Linked DNA regions of Homo sapiens. The protein of the gene in region 1 purifies or fractionates together with the protein of each later gene. This does not show direct contact. Each region holds a gene or a part of one and is shown on either strand. Other genes may lie near its edges. The genes, in order: DSG1, VRK3 and ARMC9.

The links.
Region 2: the proteins of DSG1 (region 1) and VRK3 purify together in Homo sapiens (co-immunoprecipitation; one large-scale study listed by IntAct). This does not show direct contact.
Region 3: the proteins of DSG1 (region 1) and ARMC9 purify together in Homo sapiens (co-immunoprecipitation; one large-scale study listed by IntAct). This does not show direct contact.

The regions. Positions count from the first base shown.
Region 1 is NC_000018.10:31,356,028-31,359,768, reverse strand, and holds the end of DSG1 (desmoglein-1 preproprotein), read right to left. Parts: 3' UTR 523-3,741; downstream 1-522. UniProt on the Homo sapiens protein: Component of intercellular desmosome junctions. Involved in the interaction of plaque proteins and intermediate filaments mediating cell-cell adhesion.
Region 2 is NC_000019.10:49,987,280-49,990,933, forward strand, and holds part of VRK3 (serine/threonine-protein kinase VRK3), read right to left. Parts: intron 2,493-3,654; coding exon 2,360-2,492; intron 1,214-2,359; coding exon 1,093-1,213; intron 1-1,092. UniProt on the Homo sapiens protein: Plays a role in the regulation of the cell cycle by phosphorylating the nuclear envelope protein barrier-to-autointegration factor/BAF that is required for disassembly and reassembly, respectively, of the nuclear envelope during mitosis.
Region 3 is NC_000002.12:231,271,616-231,275,269, reverse strand, and holds part of ARMC9 (lisH domain-containing protein ARMC9), read right to left. Parts: intron 2,316-3,654; coding exon 2,192-2,315; intron 1-2,191. UniProt on the Homo sapiens protein: Involved in ciliogenesis. It is required for appropriate acetylation and polyglutamylation of ciliary microtubules, and regulation of cilium length. Acts as a positive regulator of hedgehog (Hh)signaling.

The DNA.
Region 1 (3,741 bases):
AGGATCATACAAGTCTGAAAGAGGTAAGATTTTGTGCAAGATGAAGTTGATAATAGTCTGGAAGTGGCATTGGAGAACAAAAGGAGATGCATCCCAGTAAAGATGAAAGGGTATGATTTAAAGGGCAAAAAAGAAGAAAAGTCATTTTAAAAGAAATAAAATGCTGGTGTAGGCAAAAATAAAAATGCAGAGTATGAAAGAAAGAAAGGTAAAAGTATAAAGATGCTACAAGTATTAAATAAGAACTAAAAATGCAGCTTTTTATCATCTGTTCATTTGTGGGGCTAACCACCTGGTCAAGGCTGGGCTCTAGCATCTATAATTAGTGGTCCAGAGAGTAGGTTCCTCAGTACACATTAAAAAAAGATAGCTAGGAAATGGAGAATGAAAACATATTTTAACATTGTGAAAATAAAAGAATTGTATCTCCTCCAATACAGGATGATAATAACTAGATTTGATAACTTTGGTTTTACAGTCTAAAACCTCCCCCTTGCTTACAATTCAGAAAAGATAAGGGAGGCATATTAATAATTTTATTGCTGTATGCATAACTCTTTGGAAATTACAAATCAACTTAAAAAAACGAACAGATAACCAAGCAAGAAACTAGCACCCAAATAATCCAAAAACTTTTATATTGAAACTTGAATAAGAGAACCTTGTGTTAAACACCACCAGAGATGAATATTAGAATTTTAAAATGCTTGTAAAACGACAGCAAAAGAAAAATAAGTTAGACTAGGTACAGTTTGACGATAAAGCATTTAGTAATTCAAATACAGCTAAACTGGGGAGAGAATGTAGACAAACAAGATTACACATTGTTTTAAAATTATCTGATGGAAAACAGGTTGATCTAGTCAAGATTTGTCCTAACATAAATTGAATAATCCGGAAGTGGAAGACAGATTTGATTTCAAGGAGAGTAGCACTCTACTGTGGACTGCTGTATCCTAGTGCAATGTGAAATGGGTCTTAAAAATCCAGAAATTGTAAAAAAAAAAGTTGGAATTTATGAAATAGGCATGGGAAAATGTGGCAAATACTTTTAAAAGTTTGCTTTGGGTCTTAAATGTCTTTCCAAAATAGTCATGGCCATTTATGCTAAAGATTATAATGCCTTTCAACTCCAGCAAAAGTTAAAGGGTGTCATATATTTTGTACCATGACAATCAAACATTGGTATAAATTCAGAAATAAATTGCCAGATAACTAAAAACATCTACTTACTAGAGTAAAAAATGTAATTTTTGAAGACATATAATTAAAATTTTGTCAGAACATTTTCTTGAATAAAAATTATGATGCTAAAAACTTTATACACAAATGTAGAACAGATGTCTAGATGAAGATATATAAATAACCCTAAATATGTACTTTTTCTTTTAATTTTTCAGTGCAAATGCAATTACATCAGACAACATGCTTAGAAGTAAATAATATGTAGCAGATATATCTGTAATTCAGTGTCAAAATTAGCTTGAGATGGTATTTTGGTTGATATTAAATGGTAAAGTATTTATAATACACTGATTTTTGCTCCTAAAGATTACCTCTTTAGACAGTCAGATAGATATTTTATAAACATTGTGGTTTGTTTTCAAACCATACATACATAGTATTAAATTACTATTTCTTTTTCCTTTTGTTAAGAGCAAGTTGATCTGAAACTCAGCTTGAATCCTAATTATAGTATTCACTTATAAAATAATTTCCATATCTCTTCTTGGTCTATGACATGATGTATATGATCTAGAGTAAACATCTAAGAAGAAGAATGAAGTTCTGCCCAAAACTTCTTCATTGAAAAATGACATGCCTTTAAATAACTACTAAAATCGTTGATGTCTTGAAAAGGGAATTTTAAAATTTAGGACTAAATGGAAAATCAGTGTGCAATCCTGGAAGAAAAAATTAGTTGGAAAGTATCTTCCCAGAAAGATAGGTGACTAATACTTCAGTTTTTCTTGTTTTTCCCATCAATTTGCAATCCTGGAAGAAAAGTTTGGTTAGAAAGTATCTTCCTAGAAAGATAGATGACTCAATGACTCAAATGGCCATGTTTTTTCTTGTTTTTCCCATCGTTTAACAGTGTTTAGGAGTTCAGATGTAACTAAATTGGGGGGATCTTAACAACCAATGGATTTTGACAGCAACAGTTATTAAAGACAGTGATTTTGTTGTTTGCAAGACAACCTAAAAAATATCTCTGGAAGATATCAGATGTCTTAAGAAAAGCTTGTGATGATATTTCATATCAAAACAGTAAGCAAGTTTCCTGTGGTCAGCTACCATTCCCTTTAATAAATTACTTAATTAATTCATTAATACTTATTTCTATTCCTTAAAACTCCTGGACCCAGGCATACTCAAGTATGTCTTAATAAATACCTTTTGACTTTATTCCTGGAAAGATTACCCATCCTTAATGTGGCCCCCTAAGTGTCAGAAAAAGAAAAGACTCCCTTTGAATGACTTTATTTATACTTCTGCATTTAGCATACTACAGACTATCAAAATTTTACATATTCTACAGAGTTAAAAGAAGATGTATACTGTGGCTTTTAAAATATTAGCCTTATCTGTTGTTACAGAGCAAAATAGCTCTAGGTTCAGTAATTCACTCCTATCCTCTTTTGACCAGTGGAGGAAGTTGAATATTCTTTGGCTTTGTAATTTCCTGGGAAATTTGAGTAATTGGGGTAAATTCTTTAAAAGTTGTATATAATTCACAACTCCAGGGCAAATTTTTTTCTAATTTTATTTTGTCATATAGAGTTTCATTTTAGTGAGCTTATAGTAACATTGTATTTAAGAAAGAAAAAATTTCTGTACCATGCAATAGTAAATTTACCTTTTTCTTAGAATGCTTTAATTCTTTTTAGAGATTTTTAATTGGGTAATACTACATAGCAAACACACAGAAATGATATATCATAAATAGGACATTACTAAATTTTGAAACTAGAAAAATATGTTATACTATATAATTTGGACACTACCTATAAATCAGCATATATAAGCCAAGATCTTATTGACAAATCAAATCAGGAATTTAAAATTTATGCTAGTGAGAAAAATTAGAGGGTGAGATAAACTAGCAGAATAGGTTTCTATTATTATTTCATGCTTATCAACACCATATTGTCAATTCTGCTAAAGGTTCCTGGTTGATTCCTGCAAAATGGCAGCAGAGGTTTGCTAAAGCAACCACTACTTTACTTACTAAAAGCGAATAATTAGCATGGTATTACTTTACAGAAGAATTCTTTTCCAACTTTCACCATTAAACATTTTACATGTTCTAAAAACATTTTTTTAGATCCCCTTAAAAAAAAATTCCCCAAAGCTTAAGCATACTACAAGCTGCTGCTTCTTTTTTTTTTGTCCACAGCTCGGCCTATGTAAATCATTTTAACTTCAGAGCTATGTAATAAAGAGCTGGATACGAATGAATATCACCTACTAAAAACAAAACCTGAAAACACAATTCAGTTCCCATCTGCTTACTTGGAAGGTCATTTGCCACTAGTGATGACAACCATGTCAGGCCTCACTTGCTTCAATTCGAGAAGTAAACTTAGTGAGTTTTGCTTTCTTAAGTCAAAACCACAGTGGTAAAGGGAAAGACGAGTGTGATATTCCTCAACCTCACCAGTAAGCAATATTCGTCAAGACTACATCTATCACTAAACACACACTAGAATCAGAAGAATCCTTGACTCCACAGGAGATTTA
Region 2 (3,654 bases), on another chromosome or scaffold:
CTCCGCTGTCCCTGGTGCTGAACCCACATCCCTAGCACTTCCCTTTTGTGTCCCGCTGCCTGCTGTTCTTGGTGCTGAACACACACCTTAGTGCCTCCCTTTTGTGCCCAGCTGCCTGCTGTCCCTAGTGCTGAACCCATACCCCTAGTGCTCCCTCTGTGTCCAGCTGCTCAATGCCCTTAGTGTTCAATCTCACCCCAGAACTTCCTCATATGTTCCGCTGTCCACCGGCTTTGGTGCTGAATGTTTAAACCAGCACTGGTAAGACCTGGTGGTTTACACAGAGGTGAAGGCACTGATCTGGCAGTGTGGACACTGCATAGGTGGTGCTACCAGTGCTGAGGCAGGGCCTGGGCCTATCCTGCTCAGATTGCCTGCATGTTTGTGATGAATGAGTCATAGTTTCCCACACACAATGAGCTTTTTTTTTTTTTTTTTTTTGAGACGGAGTCTCGCTCTGTCGCCCAGGCTGGAGTGCAGTGGTGCAATCTTGGCTCACTGCAAGCTCCCACTCCCAGGTTCACGCCATTCTCCTGCCTCAGCCTCCCAAGTAGCTGGGACTACAGGCGCCCGCCACCATGCCTGGCTAATTTTTTGTATTTTTAGTAGAGACGGGGTTTCACTGTGTTAGTCAGGATGGTCTCGATCTCCTGACCTCGTGATCCGCCCGCCTCTGCCTCCCAAAGTGCTGGGATTACAGGCGTGAGCCACCGCGCCCGGCCACAATGAGCATTTTCTCTGAGCCAGCCCCTGTGCTAAGTGCTGTGTGCACCTGACTTCCCTGAACTCTTTGCAGTCCCATAAGGTAGTAGCTAGTAGGAGACCATCTCATGGAGCAGGACACTGAGGCTCGCAGACGTTAACACCCCACAGTGGTGGTGCCAGAGTCTGAGCCCAGGCAGTGTGGCTCCGGAACACCTGCCTCGCCTGCTGTGTGGACACTGCAGCACATGCCTGTGCGGCTCAGAGGACTTGGGCTCTGCTGGATGCCACCTCCCCTTCCCTCCTGCTCCCAGTTGGGCTCTGGGCTTCTGTCCACCTGCAGGGGTTCTGCTGACCACCTGCAGGGGTTCTGCTGACCCCTAGACTCACTTCTGTTTTTGCTTCATGATGTCCTCAGTGTTGGGAAGGCAATTTGTCCATGGCAGAAACCCGTAGAGCCACTTCAGCATGCAGTAGCCCAGGCTCTGGAGGTCGCTGCGGCGGGAGGGCCCTGGGGAAGGAGGAGTAAAGGTGGCAGCTCAAGTCTGGACGCTCCACTCACTGGTGGGTCCACCCCCCTTCCTTCCCCTCTCTCTCACTGACTCAACCACACACTCATACACCCAGCCTTCCAGCCATATGGGCTGTCTCCTCCGCTCATTCACTTTCATGAGTAGGCAGAAGCTGACTCATTCTCTCTCTCACTCAACCATTCTCTCAGCCCCTTTTACCAGGTCACCCTCATCCACTCCTCTTTCATTCATGCACTCATTCAATCAAGCCTCAGCACCCGTGTGCCAGGCCCAGCTCACTTCTGAAAACCCAGACCAGGATCTCGTCGGGTCCCAGCCCGTGACAGCCTAGTGGGGAGACAGCTATAGCGTGCGACTACCTGAGTGACAAAGGACACAGAACACACGGGAGCCCAGAAGGATGGGTACCAAACCCAGCCTCAGTGGGGGAGGGCGGGGGAGACTCTGACAGTTTATTTTTCTTATGCTTCCTGAGCATAAGACAACGCTTAATTTAGACAACGCTTTGTGTAAGCACTCGACAAGCACTACTTGTCCGTGCTGGCCTTCCACCACCCGATGCTGGAGGCAGGGGTGCCATCCCTGTACTGGGGGAGCTCAGTCTGATGGGAGGATGTGGCAGGCATGTGGACGGCCATGATATAAAGGGATGTGAGAAAGAGGGGCTCAAGAAATCTGCCCTGGGCCCTCTTCCTAGTCTGTACACTTTCCCTGGATGATCCCATCCTCTCCCAGGGCTTCGGCTGATAACTTCTGAGATACTGCAGAGCCTCTGCCCAGATCTCCCTCCCACACTCCAGATGTGGTGGCCAACCACCTCCTCAACAGCCCCTCCTGGATGACTCCTAGGCAACTCCCATCTTCCAAGTCTACAACAGATCCTGAACCCCAACCTCTGGAACTCAGGCTCCCCAGTGCCCAGCCTCCCACTATGCTTAGTGCTGAACCGCTACCCCACCCACCTCCCTTGCGGTCGGGACGCTGTCTGTGGTTCCAATCCCTGTCCTGGCGCCCTTAGTGCCTCTCCTGTCTGGCCACCTGCTGTCTCTGGCTGTGAACTCCTAGAGCTGCCCTTGTATAAGAAGCATCTCTCTGCGGTCCCAAACCCATCCCTGGCCTCGTACCGCATCCCTTGTGCAGGTCCATGCTAATGAACTCAAGGTCCCCCTCGTGAGGGCTCCTGCTGCCTTCCACGTAGGCCACGTGTTTGCCACTTGGGCAATAGCGGAAGGCGAAGCCATAGCCTGCCAAAGTCACCTGTGGACACAGGGAAAAGCCATACAGATTGGAGGTTAGGAGCGTAGAAGTCAGAGATTTCCATCGTGGGTGCAAGTGACAACAAACATTCTACCAAAGATGGCATTTTTCACTTACAAAACTAAGGCATGCTCATAGTAAAAATGATGTGAAGTAAAAAGAACCCAAACCAGCCATCCATATTTCCTCCCAGCCCCTAAAACCCATCGCCCAGAAATAACCACTAGTAACAGTTTCGTATGCATCATTCCAAAATTTTTTTTTTTTTTTAAATAACCAGGTAAACATATGTGGATGGGGAGGGGGCTCTTGTTTTCCACAGAGGCCTCACACCAGACCTCCTGTTGGGCACCGGCACTTTACACTTTAATAGTGGTTCTGGGCATTAACTCTGGGGCCAGATGGCCTGGGTTCAAATGCCAACTCAGCCCGCTGGTGGCGGTACAACCTTGGGCAAGCTATACCAGTTCTCTCTGCTATGATTTCTCCATTTGTAAAATGATGATAATAATAGTCCCCACCTCAAAGGGTTCTTATAAGGCTTAACTGAGTTTAAAACAAAAGTTAAATGCTTTCTGCCTGATACATAAAGTTAACCAAATCTTCTTTCAAAAATATCTACTTATTTATTTTGAGATGGGGTTTCACTCTGTCACCCAGGCTGGAGTGCAGTGGCGCGATCACGGCTCACTGCAGCCTCCTAGGCTCCAGTGATCCTCCCACCTCAGCCTCCCGAGTAGCTGGGACTACAGGCATGCACCACCATGCCCAGCCGATTTTTTGTAAAGATGGGGTTTTGCCCTGTTGCCCAGGCTGGTCTTGAACCCCTGGGTTCAAGTGATCCTCCTGCCTTGGCCACTGTGCCCAGTCCATGTCTTCTTTTCAATGGCTGCATCTTATTCCACCATATGGATAGTGGACAACTGTTGGTTTTGTCTATGTAAGACCTATATACACTTCCCCGGCTCCCTGTTTTTCTGTTTACAGTTTGTGGTGTTCATTAAAAAAATAATTTTTTTTTTTTAAGTTTTGAGACAGGGTCTCACTGGGTCACGCAGGTTGGAGTGCAGTGGTATGATCATGGCTCACTGCAGTCTCCATCTCCTGGGCTCAGGTGATCCTTCTACCTCAGCCTCCTGAGTAGCTGGAACCACATGTGTAT
Region 3 (3,654 bases), on another chromosome or scaffold:
ACCAGTTATCCGTTCATCCTGTTCTTAAACACTACACTGACCCAATCAGGGTGGCTTATTAGAATACAGTGAAGACTGCGCTCTCTTGGTAACTAGCTACCTTCTTCATTTATTGCAGAGACTCTGGAAAACTGCAAAAAGGTTAAGCACATTTACAGAACAAAAAAGCTTAAATTAACACTTAGAGGAAAAGATAAACAGGCAGTAAACATTTGCATTACCAGGAGGAAGTATTTTTTTCACCATATCTTGTATCTGTTACTTAACTATAGTTATTGAATTTCTAAAAACTTCCCCAAAGCGATCAACATGGAGCAAAGTTCTCTCTATAAACAAAAAGAAATGAAGTGTTTGTATGCTCTGAGGAAGTAATGACTCTGCAGCACTTACAGTTCTTTTCGATTCATATAGTTAGAACAAAGAATTTTCATTGGCAGGGAGCTGGCAAATGGTAGATACAAATACCTATCCCTTCCCCCACTAAAAACACACATGCTTAGACCATTTCACTTTGTAGGCTTCTGGTTATTTGTGAGTCAGTCAAATGTAAACCACATTTGATGGGAAGAAAGTGTGTTCAGAAGAGGACCGACAGAAAAAAGTTGAAGACTCCAGGGACTAGAGTTCTCAAGAAAGTCAAAGAGAACTTGAGGTGATCATGAGAGAATAAAAACTCTGAAAAAATTACCATATGTCCCAACAGTTCCTCTCCTAGATGCCGATCCACGAGAAAAAGAAACATATGTCCACACGAAGACTTGTGCTGAAGCATTCATGGCAGCATTATGCATATTGGCCAAAAATGCAAACAACTCAAATGCCAATCAACTGAAGGACAAACAAAATGTGGTGTAGGCCGGGCGCGGTGGCTCACACCTGTAATCCCAGCACTTTGGGAGGCCGAGGCGGGTGGATCACAAGGTTAGGAGTTCGAGACCAGACTCACCAGCATGGTGAAACCCCATCTCTACTAAAAATACAAAAATTAGCCGGGTGTGGTGGTGTGCGCCTGTAATCCCAGCTACCCAGGAGTTTGAGGCAGGAGAATTGGTTGAACCCGGGAGGCGGAGGTTGCAGTGAGCCAAGATTGCGCCACTGCACTCCAGTCTGGGTGACAGAGTGAGACTCCATCTCAAAAACAAACAAACAATATGATGTAGCCATAATGGAGTACATATTCAGCCACAAAAGGAATGAGGCCCTGACACATGCTGCTACATGGACAAACCTTGCAAACGCGATGCTAAGTGAGAGAAGCCAGTCACAAAAGAGTGCACACTACATGATTCCATTTATATGAAACGTCCAGTACAAGTCAATCGACAGAAAGCAGATTTGTGGCTACCGGGGACTGGGGGTAGGAATGAGGAGTGACTGTAAATGGGTATGAGGTTTCTTTTTGTGGTGATGGAAATGTGCTAAACCTGGATTGTGGTGATGACTGCACAACTCTGTAAATACACTAAAAATCCTTCAATTGTATGCTTAATATGGGGGAATATTATGGTGTGTAAATACATCTCAACAAAACTGTAAACTAAAAAGGAACCTACGGGGCCGGGTGCGGTGACTCACGCCTGTAATTCCAGCACTTTGGGGGGCTGAGGTGGGCGGATCACCTGAGGTCAGGAGTTCGAGACCAGACTGGCCAACATGGTAAAATCCTGTCTCTACTAGAAATACAGAAATTAGCCTGGCCCCATTGGTTCCAAGTCATGACGGTCTAGGCTGATCCCATGGGGTGGGCTGCTGGGATCATGGACAAGGTCAGGAGGCCCTAACCCTGACTTCCACAGAACTGCCCTTGACACTCTGCTGGGATGTGCATTCATGTGTGCAGCTCCCACAGGGGACTGGAAGTAACTTGAGGGCTGAGGCTCTATCAGGTCTGATTCATGTGTCTGTCTCTAAGCCCTGCACATGCCCTGAGACACAATCCTGCATGGCTGGCACTCGATAATGTCCATTAGGAAAATCCAATGATGCTTTGAAAATGTCTTCCTCCATCCCCAGCAGCCTTGCGCAGGATAGTTTAGTGGATTACAGATAAGCTTTCTAGCTCTGTCTTAGAAAGTCATCCAACCTCTCCAAAGTGTAGTGGAAAAATACCATCTGCCTCCTGGGTTGCCATGGGAATTTTAACTCAATCTGATCTCACAGGAGACACCGTGACCTATTGCACAGTCGTTACCTGAGACTGAACTTCTGCAGGGCCCCAAGAACATTCTCCCTGGTGATGATATCCTTGTCCTCCTCCTTCAGCCTTCCCTCCAGCATCTGCAGCACCTTTGTGTTCTGGGCAAGGTAGAGGCGACCTGATAATACACCAGAGATGAAACAGGTGAAAGACAGAAATAATTTATCTGGTATGCTACAAAACCACTTTCCACGAAAACTTACTTTGCATATAACACAGTAGAGTTTGGGTAATTTTATGTTCTAAAAAACTTACTGGGCAGGGCGCGGTGGCTCACGCCTGTAATCCTAGCAGTTTGGGAAGCCAAGGCAGGCAGATCACCTGAGGCCAGGAGTTTGAGACCAGCCTGGCCAACATGGTGAAACCCCGTCTCTATTAAAAATACAAAAATTAGCTGGGTGTGGTGGCAGATGCCTGTAATCCCAGCTACTCGGGAGGCTGAGGCAGGAGAATTGCTAGACCCCAGGAGGCAGGTTGCAGTGAGCCTGAGATCGTGCCACCACACTCTAGCCTGAATGACGGAGCGAGACTCCATCTCAAAACAAACAAACAAACAAACAAACAAACAAACACTTACTGGTTGTGCAAGGTGGCTCACGCCTGTAACCCTAGCACTTTGGGAGGCTGAGGCAGGTAGACTGTTTGAGCCGAGGCGTTGGAGACCAGCCTGGGCAACAGGGCGTAACCTCATCTCTATAAAAACTAAGGAACATTAGCCAGGTATGATGATGCACACCTGTTGATCCCGCTAATTGGGGGGCTGAGGCGCGAGGAGTATTCCTTGAGCCCAGGTGGTTGAGGCTACAGTGAGCCGAGATCATGCCACTGTACTCCAGTCTGGTTGACAAAGTGAGACTCTCTCAAAAAAAAAAAAAAAAAAAAAAACCAAACACACACACACACACAAAACCCCCACAAAACTTATTAAAACTTATTAAAAGATATTTCTTCTAAACGTTAAACGTTGGTTTTATTCAATGAAATATCTGGTGACTAGAAAAACCACTCTTCTTGTGAGCTAAACATAATTCATTGCTGTGTTCTTGTGGGGAGCATTGTCCTTTTTTTTCCATGAAATCCTGAACCCAACAGTCAGATCTACAAAGAGAAATGAGGGGTAATGTGTGTGTTATGAGCCCTTAAGTCTTCACAACAGAGGCAGCCAAGGAATGCTTCCATACACACTCTCTGTACAAGGCCTGGAGAAGAAGCAGGAAGCCACACCTGGGACCCTGTAATAAGCCCAGAATGGTCCCTAGCCTGTTGTGGACTTCTGAATGGATATGGAAGATGTTAATTTCAGACATAAGTTTCAACAGTATTATTATATGAATGGTCCTCAGTAACACATCCTGGCTTATCATAAATGTCTGCCAAATGGATGGAAGAACGAATGAACAAATGAACAAAGTTTTGGAGTATCATATATTCATAATTTGAAAACTCCCTTTATTCAC